3 separate regions of the Homo sapiens genome follow, and all the other regions are linked to region 3. Evidence: fine-mapped expression QTL. A gene starts in region 3. Each other region holds a variant in brackets. All regions are shown on one strand. Distances are from middle to middle.

Region 1 (2,763 bases), 34 kb after region 3:
GATGGCATGTGAATTGGGCAGACAGTGACATTTTGCTGAACGAGCACGTGAAACAGGTGAATTCTTTCCCTCCTCACCAACAGGACCACATACACACAACCACATTCCTTTGTCTTTCTCAGGTATGTATTACAGGATGGGAGCCCATATATGCGGTCCATGAAACAGATTTCAAAGGAAAAGCTTAAAGCAAGGCGGAACAGAACTGCATTTGAAGAAGTGGAAGAAGACCTAAGGCTCTCCCTTCACCTCCAGGATCAGGATTCTGTCAAAGATGCAGTGCCAGATCAACAGTTAGATTTTAAGCAGCTCCTGGCCCGCTATAAAGGTAACATGCCTCTTGGGGGAATATTATAATTATGCCAAAGATTTCTAGTATTCTTTCTTACCAAGATTCGGAAGAAGAAAAATATGATTCTTGTTTCATAGTTACATTGCCTTTAATTCATCAGAGCAACCTTAAACCTAGAAAAATAGTTCAGATACATATTTAGAATACAATTGTTACTATATTTGCCAATGGGTTTTTTTTCTAATTATAAAAGAAATATGTGCTCATTAGAGAAAAATTGTGAGGTAGTAAAATATAAGTTATATTCTTGTGCATTTTGTAGCTTTTTATTTTGATGTGATTTCAAATTTATGGAAAAGTTCGCAAGGCTAAACGATGAACTCTCATATATCCTTTACCCCAATTCACCAGTTGTTAATGTTTACTTCATTTTTTGCTTTATCATTTGCTCTGGGTTCATGTATTTTTTTTTTCTGAATCTCCTGAGAGTAAGTTACAGATATGATGCTCCTTTACCCTTAATACTTTAGTGTGTCTTTCCTAAGAACAAGGACATTCTCTTACGTAACCACAGTACAGTGATCAAAATGAGGACATTTAACACTGATACAATTATATAATTCACAGTCCATACTCAGGCTTGAACAATTATCTCAGTAATGTTTATTTTTGCTGTATTTTCCTGATTCAGGATCCTATCATGGATCATATATTACATTCAGTCATGTATTCTTAGTCTCCTTTGATCTAGAACAGCTCCTCATCCTTTGTCTTTTAGTGACCTTGACATTTTTGAAGATTATTTTGTAGAATGTCCATCCATTTGGGTTTAGTATTTCTCCATGATTAAATTTAGGTTATACATTTTTGGCTGGAGCATCACAAAAAC[G/A]ATCTTGATTTCTCAATGCATCATATCAAAAGGCACATGGGCCCCGTGGTGTTGGCTTGTCCCATTATTGGCAATGTTAACTTGTTCACTTGGTAAAGGTAATGTTTGCTAGGTTTCTCCCTTGGTAATTGCTATTTCTTTTGTAGTTAATAAGTCATTTGTGAAGCAATATTTGACATGATTTTAAAACCATTTAATATCCCAATAGTTTTAGCATTATTCGTGGGCTTTTAAAATAACATCTTTTGAGGCCTACCCTGTGCTGAGCTTTTTATGTATGTTATTAGGTACTTCCTCCTCCCATGCCAGACTCTAGCTGGCTACTCTTTGTTCCTATGTGGTCTTCTATCCATATAAGCTAAACTGAGCCCATAGAAACCCCAGGATCACTACTTTTGCTTTCTTCCTTGAAGCCTAGACTACAAGCAGGTCTCAGCTGTCCTTCTTGCTCCTTTTTCCGTAGACTGTCACCCTGTTCTTAGTTCTTCCCAAAAAAGGGTGTTTATTGTTCATGAGTAAGAGCTTCCAACCCGTTACTGCTTCTGTAGGATACAAGGCAAATGAATTTTCCTTTTTCTGCATCTACCAAAGACAGTTCCCAATCCTGGATGTGGAATGGTAATCACCAAGGAATTAAGATATTAGCCATTATTCTGTTGTTTAGGAAGATAAGCATAGCTCCCTAACATTTTATTTCATCTTCGCAATATTGAGAGATGTAAAGCTAAGAGAATGGACTTGTGTTTTATAGATCTGGGTTCAACTCCCAAGGCTCTCATAAAACCAGCTAATGATCTTGAGCAAGTTCTTTATCATCTCTGTGCCTCAGTTTCCTTATCTATAAAGTGGAATCATTTAGATGAGTATAATACAAACCCACAAGGATAGTGCCCAGCTAGTAAGTGCAGATCCATGATTCTAATTAAAATATGTCTAACTAAAAAATTTGTGTGCTTTTTGTACGTCATACCAACTGATAATTCAGATTCCCTTATTCCATTAAATTATGGAACAAGAAAATTCCTTTGAGGTTGGGCATGGTGGCTCACGCCTATAATCCCAACACTTTGGGAGGCTGAGGCAGGAGGATCACATGAGCCCAGGAGTTCAAGACCAGCCTGGGCAATACATTGAGACCTTGTCTCTACTACAAATGTTTTTTAAAATTAGCCGGGCATGGTAGTTGGCACCTGTAGTCCCAGCTACTCAGGAGGCTGAGGCGGGAGGATTGCTTGAGCAAAGGGATTCAAGGTTGCAGTGAGCTATGATCGCACTAGTGCACTCCAGCCCCAACAGAGCAAGACCTTGTCTCAAAAAAAAGAAAATCCCTTTGGCTTCTTTCAAAATTTTGGAGTTTTCTTTTAAAATTATCACTGAATCTAATCCATGACTTTCTAATTTTAAGCACAAAGGTTACTAAAGTTCAGAAAGTACCTTTGGGACCCCCTTTTTAAGGAAGGAGAATGGAGGAGTTGAGGTCAGGAAACATGACTCTGCCACCAGCTTCTGTATGGTACTGGGCTGATTGCTTAGCTTTTCTGAGCTTCTGGTTCTGTTTTTTGTTTGTTTGTTTGTTTTAAAA
Region 2 (2,763 bases), 140 kb after region 3:
TGTAAAAATTTCACCTGGTGATTTCTGAGACAGCATCTGTCACCCAGGCTGGAGTGCAGTGGCATGATCGCTGCCTTGACTTCCTGGGCTCAGGTGATCCTCCTGCCTCTGCCTCCTGAGTAGCTGGGACTACAGGCACATGTCACCACACCCAGCTAATTTTTGTATTTTTTTCTTAAAGATGGGGTTTCACCATGTTGCTTAGGTGGGTCTCAAACTCCTGGGCTTAAGCATTCCACCGGCCTTGGCCTCCGTAAGTGCTAGGATTACAGGTGTGAGCCACAGTGCCTCGCTTCTCCCCTGGTTCTTCTAATACGCAACCAGAATTGAAAACCACTGCTCTGGAAGTGGTGTTAGTTATTGGAAGATTGGCCTGGTTTATTCTACTATAATAAGGAAGTAGCAGCACTCACATGTGAATCAAAGGATTCTGCTATTGTCCTCTAGGTTTCTCTGTCTCCAAATGATCCCATGCTGGAAAGGAAACTGAAAAAAACAGAAACTGCATTTTAATTTATATTAGTACCAGTAGAGGTCGCTGTGCTCAAAGAAATAATCATCTTTAAAAAAAAGTTAACATTCTATTCAGAATTTTTTTTTTTTTTTTTTGAGACAGAGTTTTGCTCTTGTTGCTCAGCCTGGAGTGCAGTGGCGCGATTTCGCTCACCGCAACTTCCACCTCCCGGGTTCAAGCTATTTTCCTGCCTCAGCCTCTTGAGTAGTTAGGATTATAGGCATGTGTCACCACCCCTGGCTAATTTTGTATTTTTAGTAGAGACGGGGTTTCTCCATGTTGATCAGGCTGGTCTCAAATTCCCGACCTCAGGTGATCCACCCACCTCAGCCTCCCAAAGTGCTGGGATTACAGGTGTGAGCCACCACGCCCGGCTAATTTTGTATTTTTAGTAGAGATGGGGTTTCACCACGTTGGCCAGGCTGGTTTCAAACCCCTGAGCTCAGGTGATCCACCCGCCTCGACCTCCCAAAGTGGTGGGATTATAGGCATGAGCCACCATGTCTGGCCTAAATATTTTTTTTAGTATAAAAAATTAAGTGTGTTACTTAATTCCTCTTGATTTTTTAAAACTATTTTTTAGTTAGTGGTTGAATCTTACCACAATCTAGTTCTGATTAATACTCTGGTAAAATATAGAAATTACACTCCAATGCTGTTTCCTTTTACTCTTCCCTCTTTTATGCTATATTTATGTATTCTAAACTTGATACTACTGTGTTACAAGTATTGCTTTGTGTAATCTTAACGTCTTTTTTTTTTTTTTTTTTTTGAGACGGAGTCTCACTCTGTTGCCAGGCTGGAGTGCAGTGGCATGATAT[T/C]GGTTCACTGCAACCTCTGCCTCCTGGGTTCAAGCAGTCCTCCTGCCTCAGCCTCCTGAGTAGCTGGGACTACAGGCACGTGCCACCATGCCCAGCTAATTTTTGTAATTTTAGTAGAGACAGGGTTTCACCATGTTGGCCAGGATGGTCTTGATCTTTTGACCTTGTGATCCACCTGCCTCAGCCTCCCAAAGTGCTGGGATTACAGGCGTGAGCCACCATGCCCGGCTAATCTTATGTCTTTTAAGAGAATAAATGAAAAAATACAATGTCTTATTAATCCATATATTTACTATTTCTGATCTTCTTTATTTCTTTCCATGGATTCTGGTGTAATTTCAGTATGGAGGACTTCCTCTAGTATTTCTCATAAGGCAGGCTTGCTAGCAATGAATTCCCTAGTCTTTATTTCACCTTTGCTTTTGAAGGATAGTTCTGGGTGATAATTGAATCTCTGGTTTTGAAGCACTTTGACCATGTCATTCCACGGCATTCTGGGCTCCATTGTTCCAGATGAGAAGTCAGCTGTTAATTGTACTGGTGCTGGTGGTCCCCTGTAGCGAGGAGTCATTTTTCTCCTGCTGCTTTCAAATTTTGTTTGCTTTTGACATTCAGCAGTTTAAATGTATCAACAGTTTGGTGTATCTAGATGGGAATCTCTATTCTTGAAGTTTGTTGAGCTTCTTAGATTTATAGATAATTGGTTTTCATCAAATTTGGAAGTTTTTTGCCATTATTTTTTTTTGTCCCTCTCTTTGGACTCCCATTACTCATACGCTCATGTGCTTGTTTTCTCACAGGTCTCTGAGGTTCTGTTCAGTTTTCTTCAATCTCTTTTCTGTTTTTCAGGTTGAATAATTCCTATTAATCTACCTTCAAGTTCACTTACTCTTTCTTCTGCTGTCTCAAATCTACTTCTGACTCTCTCTAGTTAACTTTTTTTTTGTTTTGTTTTGTTTTTTTTTGAGACAGTTTCACTGTGTTGCCCAGGCTGGAGTGCAGTGGCGTGATGTTGGCTCACTGCAACCTCTGCCTCCCGGGTTCAAGTGATTCTCGTGCCTCAGCCTCCCAGTATTACAGGCACAGGCACATGGTGATGCCTGGCTAATTTTTGTAGTATTAGTAGAGATGGGGTTTCACCAGGTTGACCAGGCTGGTCTTGAATTACTGTCCTCAAGTGATCCGCCCACCTCAGCCTCCCAAAGTGCTGGGATTACAGGTGTGAGCCATTGTGCCTGGCCTCTCTAGTTAACTTCTTATGCATCATTATACTGTTTTCAACAAACTTCTACTTGATTCCCTTTTTTTTTTTTTTGAGGTAGTGTCTCACTCTGTCACCCAGGATGGAGTGCAGTGGCATGATCTCAGCTTACTGCAACCTCCGCCTCCCAGGTTCAAGCAATTCTCCTGGCTCAGCCTCCCAAGTGG
Region 3 (2,763 bases):
AGAGAGCAATCTTGCTAGAATTCTGATCTCGTTTAGGGGTTAAATATAGACACTAATTAACACTAAATCTTAGAAAAATCTGAATTTAGTTATGTTTGCTTATTTTTTCCCCATAATTTCTAAGATTTGGTTGTGGATAAAGGGTGAAGTATGGTGGTATACAGAAATTGCCATGTGTGCTCATTAATTAGTTATTTACATGTCTGCAAGATGTGAAATTCCAAGAGAGCAGGGACACAGAGCTACTTTCTTTCTTTTTTATTTTTTAATTTAATTTAATTTAATTTAATTTATTTATTTATTTATTTATTTTTGAGACGGAGTCTCGCTCTGTCGCCCAGGCTGGAGTGCAGTGGCTTGATCTCGTCTCACTGCAACCTCCGCCTCCCGGGTTCACGCCATTCTCCTGCCTCAGCCTCCCAAGTAGCTGGAACTACAGGCGTCAGAGCTACTTTCTAAGTGTTTAACTAATGATAACTAACTAGATTACCAGATCTGCTTGTAGTTTCCCACAGATGCCATGCCGTACTCTGGGTGGAACACCCTTCTCTTCTTTACCTGGTTAACTGCTATTCATCCTCAAGAGTTGGCAAAATAGAGTGTAGTAGTTAGGGGTTCATGCTCTGGCATCGGACTACCTACCTTTGCATCCAGACTCCACCATTTTCTCTGACCTTGGACAAATAATTATCTTATGCCTCAGTTTCCTCATCCTTAGATGGGGCAAATCAAGTAAATGAGCTAATCTAGTTAAAGCACTTAGCCCAGTGTCTAAACTCTGTAAATATTAGCTATTGTATTCTTGTAGCCCCAGCTCAGGTATGAGCTCTCCCACAAAGCCTTTCTTCTCATTACTTGTCAACCTCAGACTCCTTCAGGAACCCCCACGGCACTCTGGGCCTATTCCTACTGTAGTACTTAAGGTTCTATTAAAACCATGCTTTTGTATCGGGATCCCCTATCCCACCCAGTTCCTCCAGGACACGGATGGCAGATTAGTCAAATCTCTTCTCACCCCACTGTCCGACTCCGTGTTTAGTACTAATAGTAACAGAACGTCTAGTGAATGAAGGGCACTTCGGAAGGAATCGTTAAGTGCCTATGAAGCAGAGCATTAAACGTAATCATATCAGAAACTGGACTGTTTTCAATTGCCGCTAAAATGTTCTACATTCGAAACTTGGGAACGTCAGAGCTAGAGGGAACCTCACAGAGACCACCCGGCACCATAGCGGAAACTGAGGCCCAGGGAGGTTGGCACGCGCCTCGGGTGTCTCAACAGCGAATTAACAACAGAATCAGAGCTAGATTCCCAGACCAGGGGTTCCCCCGTGCCCCTCGGCTAGACGGTCAGGAAATATATCACACCCCCACAGGAGTTACCGGGAGCCAAGCAGGTTCTGACTCCACGCTAGTTCGACTTAAAGGAGCTCTTCTCTGCCCGGGTCGTTAGGAGGAGGGACACTCACTTGGCCGAGAGGTGTTAGAGAGATCTTCCAAACTCTGCGACTCCCCCTGGGCGGCCAGCTCTGCGGCCGGGAGAGAACTAGGCGCTAGGACAGCTCCAGGTGCGACTTGGTTGCTGGGGCGACCGGGCACCTCTCACCCGGAAGCGAATACGCGAGGGGCTGTAGCTGAGCCAATCAGAAGGCGCCGGGACTGTGCCGCTGCAGCTGGGCCACCGCAGGGCTGCTCCAAGTGAGAATCGTGAGGGTGGCCAAGTCCAGTTTGGACCTCTGACCCTTGGGCAGCACCTCCCGACAGCCGGCTCGGGACCCAACTCTGCGAGCCAGGTACGTCTTCCACTTCTGCGGACAAGTGATGCGCGTTGTGCGCACGGTGTGCGCGTCACCCTGTTTGTCAGTGTGTCTGCCGCCTCCTGCTCCAGGAGTGGTCGGGATCTGACGAGCATCGCGGCCCAGTGTGTTTCATCCAGTCTGCCTGGGGCCGGTGAATCTGGACCAGCAGGATCCCAGGCCCTGATACCGAACCAAGGCGGGCTCTGCCGCTGAGGTTGTCCACGCTCAAACTGCAGGTTGGGGCCGGGGGGGGCGGGGCGTGAAATTCAGTCTTGGAGCAGGCTAAGGGGTTGATTGAAGGGATCAGGCTCCGTTCTCTGACTCCGTCTGTGTGGCTTTTTTGGGGAGAAGGGTGGGGACGATGTGAGTTCGAAAAAGGATACGAGATCTGGATATCTGGATGGAGCTGGATATATTGTGATCAGTCAGAGATCTGCCTGGGAGGAGAGTAGTGTGTAGTCACTTTTCAGTGCCTTGGCTATCAAACAAAGAATACTCTTACAGCCAAACTTAGGTCCCTGTATCCATGGTGAAGAAAGATAGTTGGAGTCTTCCCGGGCTAGATGGAATAGATAGTGGAATCTAACCACGTGGATTATACAACCTAATTCCTATTCCCTTGAAAACTCTGGGAGAGTGGTATTGGACACCATTACAGTCAGTAAATCTTCGTTTAAAATGTTAAGCGCATATCTCAGATCTAGTTGTAAAAGTAACATTTTCTGGGTTGGTGTGAGACAACTTGTTTTGATTCAGCGTAAGTATCCTCTTGCTTTTTCCTAATGTTTCTCAGTACACAAATTTACCTGGGCTGCATGGTTTTTGAGATGAAGTTCTAATCTAACTGATTTGTTATTTCATTTCCCTAAATTTTAGAAATAATAGGTAATTATTGGTGCACAACCTTACAGAATTCAGTTTGACCTGTTATTTTTCTTGCCTGTTAAGATTTTAATGACTCTAC

Which allele goes with the higher level. Alleles are on the strand shown, and positions count from the first base shown. SD is a standard deviation of normalised expression in the study named. Not every link is listed here.
For the expression in skeletal muscle of the gene that starts at base 1,604 in region 3, allele T in region 2 goes with a lower level than allele C (small effect, 0.23 SD a copy in GTEx).

Evidence for each region. PIP is the estimated chance that this variant, and not a neighbour inherited with it, causes the effect. A credible set is the group of variants that fine-mapping cannot tell apart.
Region 1: its variant is the best candidate, but not a certain one, in a credible set for the expression of MORN2 in blood mononuclear cells (TOPMed, PIP 0.68).
Region 2: its variant is the best candidate, but not a certain one, in a credible set for the expression of MORN2 in skeletal muscle (GTEx, PIP 0.90).

Annotation. Positions count from the first base shown.
Region 1 is chr2:38,840,570-38,843,332 of GRCh38, reverse strand. It overlaps DHX57 (DExH-box helicase 57), which reads left to right. Exons shown (of 24, transcript NM_198963.3): 12 at 123-328. It overlaps LOC105374470 (a long non-coding RNA gene), which reads right to left. Exons shown (of 3, transcript XR_001739419.2): 2 at 390-465. Among named protein-coding and RNA genes, the nearest start is that of DHX57, 34 kb to the left of the region's middle. The variant G/A (reference allele first, on the strand shown) is at 1,182.
Region 2 is chr2:38,738,828-38,741,590 of GRCh38, reverse strand. No RefSeq gene overlaps it. Among named protein-coding and RNA genes, the nearest start is that of SRSF7, 11 kb to the left of the region's middle. RefSeq lists a silencer at 581-753. The variant T/C (reference allele first, on the strand shown) is at 1,336.
Region 3 is chr2:38,874,817-38,877,579 of GRCh38, reverse strand. MORN2 (MORN repeat containing 2) reads right to left here and starts at 1,604. Exons shown (of 5, transcript NM_001145450.3): 1 at 1,470-1,604. The coding sequence starts at 1,527. DHX57 (DExH-box helicase 57) reads left to right here and starts at 1,646. Exons shown (of 24, transcript NM_198963.3): 1 at 1,646-1,793. RefSeq lists an enhancer at 1,453-2,437.